Linked DNA regions of Homo sapiens: region 1 is linked to region 2. The links come from fine-mapping of genetic effects on gene expression. Tissue or cell type: whole blood. Region 2 holds a variant in brackets; the other region holds the start of a gene. All regions are shown on one strand. Distances are from middle to middle.

The links. PIP is the estimated chance that this variant, and not a neighbour inherited with it, causes the effect.
Region 1: it holds the start of CTSB, and the variant in region 2 is fine-mapped to the expression of CTSB in whole blood (TOPMed, PIP above 0.99). The same link has a PIP of 0.9 or more in cerebellar hemisphere, cerebellum, cerebral cortex and prefrontal cortex.

The regions. Positions count from the first base shown.
Region 1 is chr8:11,865,047-11,873,209 of GRCh38, reverse strand. CTSB (cathepsin B) reads left to right here and starts at 5,123. Exons shown (of 10, transcript NM_001908.5): 1 at 5,123-5,209. RefSeq lists silencers at 4,970-5,089, 5,230-5,559 and an enhancer at 5,650-5,859.
Region 2 is chr8:11,840,508-11,848,690 of GRCh38, reverse strand. CTSB (cathepsin B) reads left to right here. Exons shown (of 10, transcript NM_001908.5): 6 at 539-624; 7 at 869-1,012; 8 at 1,523-1,639; 9 at 2,902-3,030; 10 at 3,469-6,167. The coding sequence ends at 3,566. Among named protein-coding and RNA genes, the nearest start is that of CTSB, 23 kb to the left of the region's middle. RefSeq lists an enhancer at 1-561. The variant C/G (reference allele first, on the strand shown) is at 4,078.

The DNA of each region.
Region 1 (8,163 bases), 25 kb before region 2:
GCTGAATTAGGCCCCCAAAAGTTTGTATGTTGAAACCCTAACCCCTAGTACCTCAGAATGTGACTGTATTCAAGGTCTGGGTGTGGTGGCTCATGCCTGTAATCCCAGCATTTTGGGAGGGCAAGGCGGGCACACTGCTTGAGCCCAGGAATTTGAGTCCAACCTGGACAACATGGCAAGACCCAGTATCTGTAAAAATAAAATAAAAAACAACAGCCAGGCATGGTTGTATGCGTCTGTGATCCCAGGTAGTCCAGAGGCTGAGGTGGGAGGATTGCTTGAGCCCGGGAGGTGAAGGTTGCCGTGAGCCAAGATCCTGCCACTGCACTCCAGCCTGGGTGACAGAGCGAGACCCTGTCTCAAACTTTTTTTTTAATTAAATAAATGAAAAATAAAAATAAATAAAACTACAAGGGCAACTGAAACCCCAAGTGAGATAATACATTTGCTCTTCATGGAAGAGGACAAGTGAGTAAACCCTGCTCTTCTGTGGTGGGGAGGCCATAGTTAGAATTGAAGGGGCCCCACCAGAAACAGAAATGGTGGGAAGTGGTGGCCTCTGGAGGCAAAGCTTTGGGGGCTGTGGACATCTGCTGAGACCCTGGCTGCAGACATGGCTTCCCTTCCGAGGGAGTTCATGTGAAAGTCGAGGCCCCCACCGGTATTAGAGGAGCAGCCATCTCTTTTGCTCGCAGTTAAACAAGTGCTCTCGCAGTAGGATAAGCCACAAAGGAGACACTGTAGGAGAATAAAGAGGAATCCTTCTGGAAGCCAATAGAAAAAAAAAAAAAACAATGTGGTCAGCCCTCATAAGGCTAGAACCAGAAACTTAGTTCTCTGAAGCCAAGGCACTGTAATTTCCCTCCCTCTGATGACAGTCACACCACAGAAAGGGAGCTGTCGGGAGGAAGAAGAAGGAGCCCAGAGGCACGGCTCATACCTCCCTGCTGGAAGGAGGGGTAAAGGGCACGAAAGTCCTTTGAGAAGAGAGGAAGGAGAAATAGAAATGAATAAGACAGCACCCTACACCAACCAACTTAGAGTTTAGATAGGAATGGAGACATATTTCTGAAAATACTGGAAACAATCACAGCCAAATAAGAAATCCAGTTCATTTCAACACTGAATAGTTGGGCACTGTAGCGTATTCAAGGATAATTTTTAAAAATTAAAAAGTTAAATCAGGCTGGGCGAGGTGGCTCACACCTGTAATCCTAGCACTTTGAGAGGCGGAGACAGCAGGATCATTTGAGCTCAAGAGCTTGAGATCAGCCTGGGCAACATGGGAAAACACCGTCTCTACAAAAAATACAAAATTAGGCTGGGCCCTGTGGCTCACGCCTGTAATCCCAGCACTTTGGGGGGCCGAGGCAGGTGGATCACGAGGTCAGGAGTTCGAGACCAGCCTGGCCAACATGGTGAAACCCTGTCTCTACTAAAAATACAAAAATTAGGGGAGTGTGGTGGCGGGTGCCTGTAACCCCAGCTACTCAGGAGGCTGAGGCAGAATTGCTTGAACTCGGGAGGCGGAGGTTGCAGTGAGGCGATATCGCACCACTGCACTCCAGCCTGGGCGACAGAGCGAGACTCTGTCTCGGCAAAAAAAAAAAATTCATATTAGCCCCCAGAGAAACCCCACACCCTTTAGCTGTCACCTACCTAACCTCCCATGTGGATTTCACGGAATCATACAATACTGAGTCCTTTGGACCTGGCTGATTTTACTTAGTAAACGTTTTCAAGGTTTATCGATGTTGTAGCATGTGTGACTACTTCATTCCTTTTTACGACTGAATAAAACTCCATTTGGTGGATTTATGACAGTTTGTTTATTCGTGCAATGGTTTTTAATGGATGGACATTTGAGTTGTTTTCACCTTTTGGTTACTGTAAATAATGCTGCTATAAACATCTGGTGTAAGTTTATACATACGTTATTAACTTTTGTTTTAGAGTTGGGGTCTCACTATGTTCCCCAGGCTGGTCTTGAACTCCTAGGCTTAAGTAATCCACCCACCTCTGCCTCCCAAAGTGCTGGGATTACAGGCGTGAGCCCACTGTGCCCGGCGGATTTTTGTGAGGACGTATGTTTTCACCTCTTTCAGGTGTTAACTTAGGCCTCTTTTACGGATGTTCAACAAGCAAACAGCTTTTACACACGTGAGTCAAGGCCTCTCTGTAAGTTCTGAGAGCTGTTCCCCAGGCCCTGAACCCTGACCCCCAAATCTAGCAGGTTAAGCCAAAATTCTCCTCAACTTCAAGGCCTACTTCATTCATTATGCATCCACTCAACTCACATTTCTCTATCCTCTGCTATGGGCCAGACACCCTGCAATGAGCTGGGATGAAGCAGGGGAACACCGCAGGTAAAAATGCTTGCCTGGGTGGGGCTTAAGATCCAGTGAGGGCAGGAAGGAACATATACAAGTAAATATGCTGTATGTTCCTTTCTCCATGAAGCTTTCCTGGATGTTCCAGGAAGGGACGAATTCTACTCTGGTAGTAATATATTTCTTTTCTTGTCTTTTGAGGAGTCTTGCCCATGTTGGAGTGCAATGGCGTGATCTCGGCTCACTACAACCTCTGACTCCCTGGTTCAAGGGATCCTCCTGCCTCAGCGCTCGAGTAGCTGGGATTACAGGCCCGCAATGCCACACCCAGCTAATTTTTGTATTTTTAGTAGAGACGGGGTTTCACCATGTTGGCCAGGCTGGTCTTGAACTTCCAACGTCGTGATCCGCCTGCCTTGGCCTCCCAAAGTGCTGGGATTACAGGCGTGAGCCACTGCGCCTGGCCTATTTCTTTTTTTCTTTTCTTTTCTTTTGAGATGGAATCTTGCCCGGGTTGGAGTGCAATGGCGTGATTTTGGCTCACCGCAACCTCCACCTCCCGGGCTCAAGCGATTCTCCTGCCTCAGCCTCTCAAGTAGCTGGGATTACAGGCGCGTGAACCACCACGCCCAGCTAATTTTTGTATTTTTAGTAGAGACTGGGTTTCACCATTTGGGCCAGGCTGGTCTGGAACTCCCGACCTCAGGTGATCTGCCTGCCTCAGCCTCCCAAAGTGCTAGGATTACAGTGGTGAACCACCGCGCCTAGCCTGTTTCTTTTGTTTCAAAAGTGATTTTTACCTCTCAAAAGTGATTTCTATAATGACACTGATGGAAAATTCCATCAAATAGCCATAACGCATGTCAAGCACTCTGCTCTGCATACCTTCTGTCACACTCTAAGGATGAGAGAGGGGAGAGTTATCCTGGTTCTGGCTGTGTCCTCCCCATTTTGGCCATCTTATGAGCTCCTTATAGAGGTCTGAAATGATTTGGAGTCCAGAGTCCATGGCTGTCAGGATATGACTAGGGTGAGCAGGCAGTTGGGACCACCTTGACCTCCAGCCTCCTGGTCCTCAGTTCCTCGGGTATCCCACTCTGCTGGGGGCTTAGTGACCATGTTTGGGCTCCAGAGATTATTTTTTCCTTCCACTCCTATCCTTAGTTTGTTACTAACCAGGCGGGAGTACAGGCATGTCTCTGAAGACAGGCTCAGGGCTGTGTGACAGCTGACGACCAGGCTGCAGGGAACCAGGTCCCATGCAGTCCTACTGCCTTTTTTTTTTTTTTTTTTTTTTTTTTTGAGGCGGAGTCTCGCTTTTCGCCCAGGCTGGAGTGCAGTGGCACGATCTCAGCTCACGGGTTCACGCCATTCTCCTGCCTCCGCCTCCCGAGTAGCTGGGACTACAGGCGCCCGCCACCACGCCCGGCTAATTTTTTGTATTTTTACTAGAGACGGGGTTTCACCGTGTTAGCCAGGATAATCTTGATCTCCTGACCTCGTGATCCGCCCGCCTCGGCCTCCCAAAGTGCTGGGATTACAGGCGTGAGCCACTGCACCCGGCTACTGCCTTCTTACTGTCGCCACAGCCTGGATAAAATACGATTCTTCTGAGCCTTTTTTTTTTTTTTAATACAGAGTTTCACTCTTGTTGCCTAGGCTGGAGTGCAATAGTGCGATCTCTGGTCACCGCAACCTCCGCCTCCCGGGTTCAAGCGATTCTCCTGCTTCAGTCTCCCGAGTAGCTGGGATTACTGACACGCGCCACCACGCCCGGCTAGTTTTGTATTTTTAGTAGAGACGGGGTTTCTCCATGTTGGTCAGGATGGTCTCGAACTCCCGACCTCAGGTGACTCACCGGCCTCGGCCTCCCAAAATGCTGGGATTACAGGCGTGAGCCACCGAACCCAGCCCCTCTGAGCCTCTTGAATACAACTGGGGTCATGCCTGCTTTGCAGGTTTGTCTTAAGGATTAAAGCTGTTTGGGGAGTGTCTGGAGGAGGGTGAGTCTTGAGCCAACCCCTGCATCTCCCTTCCAGGGCCTCCCGGTAATAAACCCCAAGTAAATGTGCACTTTGTCCGTCCTCTCGGAGCAGGTCTCCGGGTACTCCTGTGCCAAACCGATTTCCGCCCCCAAGGTCCTTCTCCTCTTAGAAATCCTGACGCAGCTCCTAGGTTCCTTCGCAGTGACAGCCACTCTTTTCTATTTGTACGTAGCTGTAGTGTTTTGTGGGTACGTTCTCTGAACAACAAAGTGGCCCTTCTAAAGGCTGTTCTGTGGGGTCCACAGCCTCGCCACCCCCAGCCTCTGCAGCGGCTTCTGAATGAATGAAATAAGCGACGGCGCCCTCTCCACCACCCCACCCCCGCCAACTCGGCAGGCAGGGATCCCAGGCGCGGGTTCTGGCGGAGGCGGTCCCGCGAGGCGGGGGGACTTTTCTAGGCGGGGTGGGGGCCTTGGGACCACCTTTAGGGGCTTTTTCCCCATCCCCTGGCCCCAATTCGCAGCGTTTCGCCACCCAGGGCCCGCAGGGCTCCAAGCCCTTCTTCCCCAGCCCGCGCGCTCAGGCCCCCGCCCGCCCCCGGCGGTGGCCCCGGACCCCGAGCGGAAGGGGGCGGGGGGTGTGCGGGGCCGGGAAGCGGGGAGCGCGGGCGGCGGAAGGTGGCGGGAGGGGGTGGGGGCTGGGAAGCACCGTGCGCGGGCGGCGGGAGGGCCCGGGCGGGGCTGCGCGGTGGTCACGTGGGGCGGGGCCGGGAGGGTACTTAGGGCCGGGGCTGGCCCAGGCTACGGCGGCTGCAGGGCTCCGGCAACCGCTCCGGCAACGCCAACCGCTCCGCTGCGCGCAGGCTGGGCTGCAGGCTCTCGGCTGCAGCGCTGGGTGAGTGCTGGGGACCCGGGGCCACCGCAGCGTAAGTGACCTTGGCGGGGACGGTGCTACCCGGCCGCCGAGACGGGTTCCTCTGCGCCCTCAGTCGGGCCCAGGCGCGGCCCCGCGGCGTCCCTGGGGGCCGGCGGGGAGCCGGGACCCTCGGGACTGTCCCTGACGGGCGGGCTGGGGTGGGAGTCCGCGCGCTCCGAAGCGTCGGCGAGAAAAGCAGAAAACAGCTCCGCCCGCCAGCCCTCTGCCCTCCGCTCCCCTCCCCGGGCTGTGCGCCGGACCCCGGCCCTCGGAGCGGGGACGCGGCCAGGACCGCCGAGGGAGGCGCCTGCGAGGAAGAGCTCGGCCGGGTCCGGAGACTGCTGCCTGGGACCGCGCTCCCAGCGCCTGGGCCTCGGTGTCTCCGGGCCAAACTGCCGACATAATCGCATCTGCCGGCATCTATTTTCGGTTTATTTCCCCCTCATTGCGAAGGATTTGCCTGGCCAACTTTCTGCGCAAGATCCCACGCAATTCCTGGGACCCCAGAAGACAGGTCCTGTTGAAGAACAGGAATCTGGCACTGGGTGGGCTGGGGAGGAAGCCGCACGGTGTTAAATCCATAAACAGGAAGAGAAACCAGACAGCGAAACCAAGAGGCGAATGGGCGATTGGATGCCGGTGGGGAGAAGGCCGGGGGCGCACCCTGCTCCTGGACTCCAGTAAAGGGAGGCCGGGCAGAGTCCCTGGGGCGCCACCTCCCCCTCGGTTAGTAGCCCTGGAGGCCGGGGGGAGTTGGCCTCTGGGGAGCAGTGGGTGCTGGGTGTGGGGCGTTGCAGGCAGGCTGGGGTGGGCGACCCAGGTGGAAGTGAATTGCACTTGGCTTCCTGGTGGGCCTCTGTCACCCCCTTCCCAGGCGCTGAGAAAGCCAGCAGGCTGGCAAAGAAAAGGACCCTAGCGCAGGCCCCACACTCCTCCTCCTAACGGACGAGAGACCCCCCAAACCCACTGGAGAAGTGACGCTGTGGGGTTCAAATGCAGACCTGGCACCTTTTTGTAGCCTGGAAAAACATTCCCACTGCCTGCTGCCGGAGGAGAGGATAGCTGAGATGCACTCTCTTTGAATCCAAACGTTCAGGAACGTAAGGCGAAGAGGCCTAAGAGGGCGTTGGCTGGCTCTGTCTCTCAGGCTGGAGCACAGTGGCGCGATCTCGGCTCACTACAACTTCCGCCTCCCAAATTCAAGCTATTCTCCTGCCTCAGCCTCCCGAGTAGCTGGGATTACAGGTGCCCGCCACCACGCCCAGCTAATTTTTGTATTTTTAGTAGAGATGGGGTTTCACCATGTTGACCAGGCAGATCTTGACCTCCTGACCTCAGGTGATCCGCCTGTCTCGGCCTCCCGGTGAGTCACGGTGCCTGGCCAAGAACTGTTTCTTGTTGGCTCTGGTGCTGGTGACTTAGAACCCGCCAGCTCCTGGAGAAAGGGGCTGGGCCGCCCACCCTGTGTAGCTTTCCCAAAGACAGAGTCAAACGTCTCCTGGAGAACAGAGGCTTCCCTTCGTCTTTGGTCATTTGTCCTCTAGCTGGGGGTACCCCCTGGTGGAAAGGCACAGGTCCCTTGCTCCCCAGGTGGCAACGCAGGCCAGACACGGCCCTGGCACAGCTCTCCTGGGTGTTGGCTCAGGACAGCCCTGTTTCCAACTGGTTAGGCGGTGAGGGGTGGTGGCCCTTTGGTTCCAGGTTGAAACTGCCCATGTGGTGCTGATTTAGCAGACTGGGGAGGCTCTTTTTGTAGGCAGGTTCTTTTCTTTCCCCAGCTGCTGGACCTGGGAGTTGGAAGAGAAGTTGCACCCATTTTAGGGGTAACAGATATTTTCTGTTGCTCTTGGTTGGATTGGGAAGTGAATTGAAGGGAGGTCACGTTTCAGGGGTGCCTTGGGATGTCTGTCAGTGATTTTCTTTTCTTTCTTAATTTCTTTTTCTTTCTTTTTTTTTTTTTTTTGAGACACACTCCCTCTATCGCTCAGGCTGGAGTGCAGTGGTGCGATCTCGGTTCACTGCCACCTCCGCCTCTCATGTTGAAGCAATTCTCCTGTCTCAGCCTCCCTCCCAAGTAGCTGGGATTGCCAGTGCCCATCACCACACCTGGCTTTTTTTTTTTTTTTTGTATTTTTAGTAGAGACGGGCTTTCACCATGTTAGCCAGGCTGGTTTTCGAACTCCTGATCTCAAGTGATCCGCCTCAGCCTCCCAAAGTGGTAGGATTACAGGCATGAGCCACCGCGCGGTGGAGGGGTAATTTTCTTAAATCTGGTAATGAGTTGTGGTTGTGTAGAGTAACATACCGTCCTTTCGAGATATGGACTGAAACATTGAGAGGGAGGAGTTACAGGTATGTCGATTCTTCTTTTCTCTCTCTCCTTTTTTTTTTTGAGGTGGAGTCTGACTCTCTCACCCAGGCTGGAGTGCAGTGGCAAGATCTCAGCTCACTGCAACTCCGCTTCCTGTGTTCAAGCCATTCTCCTGCCTCAGTCTCTCAACTAGCTGCGATTACAGGCATGTGCCTCCACACTCAGCTAATTTTTTTATTTTTAGTAGAGATTTTTTGTCTCTCCTAAAAAAATCCAATGTAAAAAAATCCCAATGTGGGGGTTTTGCCACGTTGGCCAGGCTGGTCTCGAACTCCTGACCTCGTGATCCGCCCACCTCGGCCTCCCAAAGCGCTGGGATTACAGGTATGAGCCACTGCGCCCAGTCTGCTGCCTCTTTTCAATGGTCTGGCCTAAGGAAATTATTGGAAACATGTGCGGTTGAGTGATATTTACTGGGCACTTCCACATGGTCCATGTAAAGGGAGATGGTTGGGGTGACAGGCAGTTGAGTCTAGGGGAGGCATGTACAGATGTGCTGTGCCTCTGGGATATCAGGGTGGCAGGCAGCAGTCTCTACGTCTGGTCCCAGGCTGCCTGAGAA
Region 2 (8,183 bases):
TCCACCTTAACAACAAGGTGGTGGCACAGAACTTTCTGCTCCAGCTGCCTGCAGCCTCGCCTTGGTTCCGCAGTAGCGGTGTTCACTGGCGGCTGCAGATCCGAAATGCCTGAGGGCTTAAAAAAATGCATGGGCTTCTCCCCTAACTAGTTAAATGGGAATCACTGGCGATTCTCATTTCAGAGAACTGGTGGTGTTTTTAAGTACCTTAGGGAAGTTTAGCGTCTGCTCAGTTGAGAATCAGTGTTCTACCCGGAAGGGCACTCGTAGCCTGGTCTGGTATGGACATGAACAGGAGAGCCTCCTGTCTTCTCCCGGATCTTTGTGGGCAGGGGTGGGGCTGGCGGTTATTCCCTGCAAGCTGTGCTTATCTAGGGAGCGTCCCTTGGAGGGTTTGGGGTCTGGGAGGTCTGCTCGCACCACTTGCTGCAGCTGGGGGTGGGTCCACGAGTGGCCTCGGGCACTTGGGTAGCACACAGTGGTCTGGAGAGCTGGTGGTGCTTCTCTCAGAGGTTTTCATTAGAGGCTGTCTTTTCAGCTGTAATGGTGGCTATCCTGCTGAAGCTTGGAACTTCTGGACAAGAAAAGGCCTGGTTTCTGGTGGCCTCTATGAATCCCATGTAGGTAAGTGTGTCCCCTTGGCCACTTTCTGGCCAGATGGATTGTTTGAGCAATTAACCATCATGGCTTTATTTGCCTTTATAAACTGGGGGTTGAGACAGAGGGGCTGCTGAGAGGTGCTAGCCAGGTGCACAGGCCTCTGGCAGGACCTGCCTGGCGTCCATGCTGCAGGCACGAGGCTTGCCTTGCCCCAGGTCTTCTCCGTGGGGGCTGTAGGTTGACTCCGCTTTCTCCCGCGTCCCATCAGGGTGCAGACCGTACTCCATCCCTCCCTGTGAGCACCACGTCAACGGCTCCCGGCCCCCATGCACGGGGGAGGGAGATACCCCCAAGTGTAGCAAGATCTGTGAGCCTGGCTACAGCCCGACCTACAAACAGGACAAGCACTACGGTAAGGGGCCTGGGGCCTGGCCACGGCGCACGTGGAGGCTGGGGAGCTGCTGCATCCCTCCTCACGCTGCAGCGAAGAGGTCAGGGCTGAGGAGCCTTGGGGTCCCGGAACTCTAGGATAGAGGAGGGGGAGTGATGCCCTCTTGCCAGGAGAAGCAGCACACTCTCCACTTTCTGCCTGTTCCACCCTGAACTCAGCCTCAGCCCTTCCAAACTGGAAGGGACCAAAGCCCTCCTTTTACAAGGGAGTGGCGTGTCCTGGAGTCTTGAGGTATCCTGGCCTCTTCCGGGGCCTCGTGCTCATTGCTCCGTTCTCCCATTTCTGAGCTTCCAGCCCCAGCCCTGTCCTTAGTTCTTCAGGGGAGCCTTCCTTGAGCTCCCCTGGCAGGGCAAGTCCCCTTAGATGCAGTCTTCCCCTGGAGGCCACCAGAAATCAGTGACTGGCTGACCGTGGCGTGCCACGAGGCACGGTCACTGCCCTCCCCAACCCCGAGCTCGGTTCATTTTCCAGGATACAATTCCTACAGCGTCTCCAATAGCGAGAAGGACATCATGGCCGAGATCTACAAAAACGGCCCCGTGGAGGGAGCTTTCTCTGTGTATTCGGACTTCCTGCTCTACAAGTCAGGTGCGTGCTGATGGCTGATGGCAATAGAGGGTGGGGGTCGGGAGGGGAGCCTGGGTGCCAGGATGGTTCATGTTGACCAATAGGGCTGGATTGGGCAGGCAGGTGAGGGGCTGGGGAAGAGGGCTGTGTGGGGCCTTCCATATAGGCTCACTCCTCTGTGGACCAGCCTGGCACCTGACTGTCTTTGTCCAGGTGTTGTGCCAACACACACAATTCCAGAGGCCTCTCCCAGAGCCTCTGGGCTAGTTCCTTCCCATCCATTAGCGTCCAGCTCATACATGTTCTCTGTGGGAACGCCCCCCTCCCTGGTGGCTGGCCACGCCTGCCCTCGCCTTCCTGGCTTTGCATTGCTTTACCAGCATGTTTCTGTTATAATGGCAGGCCGTTCGTGTTTGCACTGGCTGACACATTTTCTTCATCTTTCTCTTTGCAAAGGCCTAGATCGTGCCTCACACCAGTGGATGAACACACAGGGAGGACCTTGCCCTGGGTAGTGCCATAGGGACTCCAACCAAGGAATCTGGACAGTCCCCATCCCCAAGTCCTGTCTTAGAAATCCCTTGCTCCAGATGAACAGTCTTTGCTGACTGCATCTATCCCATTAATATTTTGCTAGATTGGAAACTTGTAAAACAACAGTTTGACAAAGGAAGATGATTCTGGCAAGAAAAAGTTTCTGTGAAGATGGCACTTCTTAGCATAGTCCTCGCCCTTATTATTAAAAGATGCATTTCCACTTTGACAGTGATTTCCCCACCCGAGAGCCTGGTTGGGCAGCCCTGAGCCCCTTAGCCAGTATCTTTCCCATCAGCTAGCATTAGCTGCCACCAGTCCTCCCTTCTCCTCCCTCACCTCTTCAGGGTGTACCTGGAGCAGCTATTAAAACTCTTTAAGCCGTGTAACGCTTTTGACAAACCCTTACTTACATGGAATCCCAGTATAAAGAACAGATGAATCAGTCATCTAGCATTAAATGTTTTATCAATTAGAATGTATTAGAAATTCTATTTTTAAAGCCAACAAGCACATTTTGTAGGAATCTATTTCAATATTTACTCAACAACTTTGAGTGTGTTGGGCCTTCAAAAATATATTTAATTCCCCAGTATTGTGGGACCCCCCCTGGAGCCTCCTGGTGGAGCAGCAGGTTCCCTCTGGAAGCTGTTTCTCCTTCCCGGAGCATGACCAGCTGAGTGTGGGGGGTGCTGTGGGGCGTGGGACAGTGGCCCGGTCTCGGTCTCAGCCAGTTCTTCCCTTTTCAGGAGTGTACCAACACGTCACCGGAGAGATGATGGGTGGCCATGCCATCCGCATCCTGGGCTGGGGAGTGGAGAATGGCACACCCTACTGGCTGGTTGCCAACTCCTGGAACACTGACTGGGGTGACAATGGTGAGTGGCTGCCCCCTTCCTGCCAAGAACAGTGAATTGTGAGCCACACCCCGTGGCCATCTCGGCTTTCTCTGTTCTACCCACCGCACAGCCTTAAACCCTGGACCTACGGCCAGGCTGTGAGCTCCTCCTAAGTGCCAGGCAGTCAGGAGTTCCCTTTTGCTGTGAGGGCAGACTCTGAGCAGCTTCAGAGCCAACGCCTGCAACAGTTCCCACAGCATCGCGCCAGATCCTGTGATGGGAAGGGTGACCGGGCAGGGGGCTTGCCCGTGGAGGTGTGCCCCACGGCTCCAGAAGCCTTGTGGTGTTGAGGACTGTGCTAGTGGGCCAACAGCAGGAGTGGCCAGGGATGAGTGACTTAAGGTCTTTTAAGGATGAGTCTGACTATATTGGTTGACCCTTGTCACACTTTAAAAGCACCTTACTTTTTATTCCCAGGCTTCTTTAAAATACTCAGAGGACAGGATCACTGTGGAATCGAATCAGAAGTGGTGGCTGGAATTCCACGCACCGATCAGTACTGGGAAAAGATCTAATCTGCCGTGGGCCTGTCGTGCCAGTCCTGGGGGCGAGATCGGGGTAGAAATGCATTTTATTCTTTAAGTTCACGTAAGATACAAGTTTCAGACAGGGTCTGAAGGACTGGATTGGCCAAACATCAGACCTGTCTTCCAAGGAGACCAAGTCCTGGCTACATCCCAGCCTGTGGTTACAGTGCAGACAGGCCATGTGAGCCACCGCTGCCAGCACAGAGCGTCCTTCCCCCTGTAGACTAGTGCCGTAGGGAGTACCTGCTGCCCCAGCTGACTGTGGCCCCCTCCGTGATCCATCCATCTCCAGGGAGCAAGACAGAGACGCAGGAATGGAAAGCGGAGTTCCTAACAGGATGAAAGTTCCCCCATCAGTTCCCCCAGTACCTCCAAGCAAGTAGCTTTCCACATTTGTCACAGAAATCAGAGGAGAGACGGTGTTGGGAGCCCTTTGGAGAACGCCAGTCTCCCAGGCCCCCTGCATCTATCGAGTTTGCAATGTCACAACCTCTCTGAT[C/G]TTGTGCTCAGCATGATTCTTTAATAGAAGTTTTATTTTTTCGTGCACTCTGCTAATCATGTGGGTGAGCCAGTGGAACAGCGGGAGACCTGTGCTAGTTTTACAGATTGCCTCCTTATGACGCGGCTCAAAAGGAAACCAAGTGGTCAGGAGTTGTTTCTGACCCACTGATCTCTACTACCACAAGGAAAATAGTTTAGGAGAAACCAGCTTTTACTGTTTTTGAAAAATTACAGCTTCACCCTGTCAAGTTAACAAGGAATGCCTGTGCCAATAAAAGTTTTCTCCAACTTGAAGTCTACTCTGATGGGATCTCAGATCCTTTGTCACTGCCTATAGACTTGTAGCTGCTGTCTCTCTTTGTCCCTGCAGAGAATCACGTCCTGGAACTGCATGTTCTTGCGACTCTTGGGACTTCATCTTAACTTCTCGCTGCCCCAGCCATGTTTTCAACCATGGCATCCCTCCCCCAATTAGTTCCCTGTCATCCTCGTCAACCTTCTCTGTAAGTGCCTGGTAAGCTTGCCCTTGCTTAAGAACTCAAAACATAGCTGTGCTCTATTTTTTTGTTGTTGTTGTGACTGACAGAGTGAGATTCCGTCTCCCAGGCTGGAGTGCAGTGGCGCCTTCTCAGCTCACTGCAACCTGCAGCCTCCTAGATTCAAGCGATTCTCCTGCTTCAGCCTTCCGAGTAGCTGGGATGACAGGCACTCACCAATATGCCTGGGTAATTTTTGTATTTTTAAGTACATACAGGATTTCACCATGTTGGCCAGGCTAGTTTCAAACTCCCGGCCTCAGGTGGTCTGCCTGCCTCAGCCTCCCAAAGTGTTGGGATTACAGGCGTGAGCCACTGGGCCCTGCCTGTATTTTTTATCAGCCACAAATCCAGCAACAAGCTGAGGATTCAGCTCATAAAACAGGCTTGGTGTCTTGGTGATCTCACATAACCAAGATGCTACCCCGTGGGGAACCACATCCCCCTGGATGCCCTCCAGCCTTGGTTTGGGCTGGAGTCAGGGCCTGTATACAGTATTTTGAATTTGTATGCCACTGGTTTGCATTGCTGGTCAGGAACTCTAGTGCTTTGCATAGCCCTGGTTTAGAAACATGTTATAGCAGTTCTTGGTATAGAGCAAACTAGAAGAACCAGCAATCATTCCACTGTCCTGCCAAGGTACACCTCAGTACTCCCCTTCCCAACTGAAGTGGTATGAGGCTAGCTCTTTCCAAAAGCATTCAAGTTTGGCTTCTGATGTGACTCAGAATTTAGGAACCAGATGCTAGATCAAATAAGCTCTGAAAATCTGAGGAACATTGTAGGAAAGGTTTGTTAAGCATCTCTTAAGTGCCATGATGAGCATAACAGCCGGCCGTCGTGGCTCACGCCTGTAATCCCAGCACTTTGGGAGGCCAAGGTGGGAGGATGACAAGGTCAGGAGTTCAAGACCAGCCTGGCCAACATGCTGAAACCTCACCTCTACTAAAAATACAAAAATTAGCTGGGCATGGTGGCACATGCCTGTAATCCCAGCTACTTGGGAGGCTGAGGCAGGAGAATCGCTTGAACCCGGGAGGCGGAGGTTGCAGTGAGCCAAGACAGTGCCAGTGCACTCCAGCCTCGGTGACAGCGCAAGGCTCCGTCTCAATAATTAAAAAAAAAAAAAAAAAAAAAAAGGCCGGGCGCAGTGGCTCAAGCCTGTAATCCCAGCACTTTGGGAGGCTGAGGCGGGCAGATCACCTGAGGTCAGGAGTTTTGAGATCAGCCTTGGCAACACGGTGAAACCCCATCTCTACTAAAAATACAAAATTAGCCAAGCATGCTGGCACATGCCTGTAATCCCAGCTACTCGGGAGGCTGAGGTACGAGAATCGCTTGAACCTGGGAGGCAGAGGATGCAGTGAGCCGAGATCACGCCATTGCACTCCAGCCTGGGGGACAAGAGTGAATCTGTGTCTCACCAAAAAAAAAAAGAAAAAGAAAGATGCTTAACAAAGGTTACCATAAGCCACAAATTCATAACCACTTATCCTTCCAGTTTCAAGTAGAATATATTCATAACCTCAATAAAGTTCTCCCTGCTCCCAAACTGAGTTGATTCATTCCATGCGCACTGTCTCCCTCACCTCCATCGTATACGCACCTGCAGCTCCTTGCCTGCTTCTAGCATGGAGCCAGCGGGGATGTGCTGGTGAGTGACAAGGAATTGTGGGGCATGTCGACATCAGCTTAAGGCTTTGTTAGAAACACCTGCCTTGCAGTGTTTGTGACTGGGAAAGAGCTCAGTGTTTTAATACACCTCAGATCACCACATTGATCATAACTTTGTCACCTCAGTTCAATAGTTTCTCCTGGATTCTTGTCCAAGTGAGATGACAGGTGGACGTAACAATGCCTTTTCAGTCTTTACCTAGCCTCTCCAGAGAATCACTCCAGAATAGAAATTAGAGTATAGGTAGGCAGTCCAACCTCTGCATTTAAAAAAAAAAATTTTGAGATGGGAGTCTCTCTCTGTCACCCAGGCTGGAGTGCAGTGGCATGATCTTGGCTCACTGCAGCCTCCGCCTCCTGGGTTCAAGGGATTCTCCTGCCTCAGCCTCCCGAGTAGCTGGGATTACAGGCACCTGCCACCACACCTGGCCTAATGTTTATATTTTTAGTAGAGATAGAGTTTCACCATGTTGGCCAGGCTGGTCTGGAACTCCTGACTTCAAGTGATCCACCTGCCTTGGCCTCCCAAAGTGCTAGGATTATAGGCGTGAGCCACTGTGCCCGGCTGCCACTCTTTTTAAAGAAAGCAGTAATTTGCCCTCTTTTATTGTGCTTCAGCCATACTGAAGTGGTCCACAGACCAGGAGCACGGCCGTCACCTGAGAGCCTGTTAGAAATGCTCATCAGAGTGTCAGAGGGCCAGACCTCTGAACCAGCATTTGCATCTCCCAAGACCCCAGGTAGTTTCCCAGGTACATTCAAGCTCACAATACCTTTCCAGCTGCTCCCTGATTAGAAAACTGCATGAGAATTTAGGAATGCAACCTCTTGGGCACCCCATCAGACCTACTGTATCAGTCTCTGTTCCCAGCAATCAGGCAATTCTGATATAAAGTCTGAGAACCACAGCCTTAGAACTGTTTCCAAAACTGCCAAGAATAACCTAGAATGTTTGTTAACATGCCTGACTCGCCCTCTTCCTCCTATACACACCCGAGCCCCTGGGAAATGGCTCAGTAGATGGAAGAAGGGGCCCTCCCTGCACTTGCCCACAGGGATCCGGAAGTTCCCATATGCAGATATAAAGCTCTTGCTCCCAAGCATTCTAATTGTTTATGGTCCTAGATTCACATGGGTCAGAGGCTCCTCTGAGGAAAACAAAATATTGCACCATTAGGTCGGATCCAAATAGACTGTATGCCAGAGATGCTATAAAATTATATTAGAAGTGGGGAGTAGAGGGTAGTGTTGCCAGAGTTACCAAACAGAAATACAAGATGGCCAACTACTTCTGAATTTTCAGTTATGCAAGTTTGTTTGTTTTTTGAGACAGAGTCTCACTCTGTCGCCCAGGCTGGAGTGCAATGGCGTGATCTTGGCTCACCACAACCTCTGCCTCAACCTCTTGAGCTCAAGGGATCCTCCTGCCTCAGCCCCAACACCCTCCGAGTAGCTGAGACCACAGGTGTGAGCCGCCATGCCCAGCATCCCCTATTATATCTGGCAACCTTAGTAGAGAAGATACTTAGAAGGAAAACAAGCTTTCAAAGAGCTTCAGAATGGAATGAGAGCGGATACCTTTCTACAACTCAGTGAGTAGAAAAAAGCACATAGCTTTATAGATAGAAAAAATCTGAGATCACCCAAACCACACAGCTCAGGAAGTGGTCCCACAGGTAATGACCAAGTCAGGAAAGAAGATTTCCACAGGCCCCACTCAGACCAAATCTCTTTCCAGCAGGTTGTTCTGTCTTAACGTGAACTTTGGCAGAATTAAATCTTAGATTTCAACACACAGATTTTTAACAACCTACCCTGAAATCTCAAACCAAGTTTTGAGGCTTTAATTCCTTGGAAAATACTGTCGAGTCTAGCTCAGTGGTCCCCAAGCTTT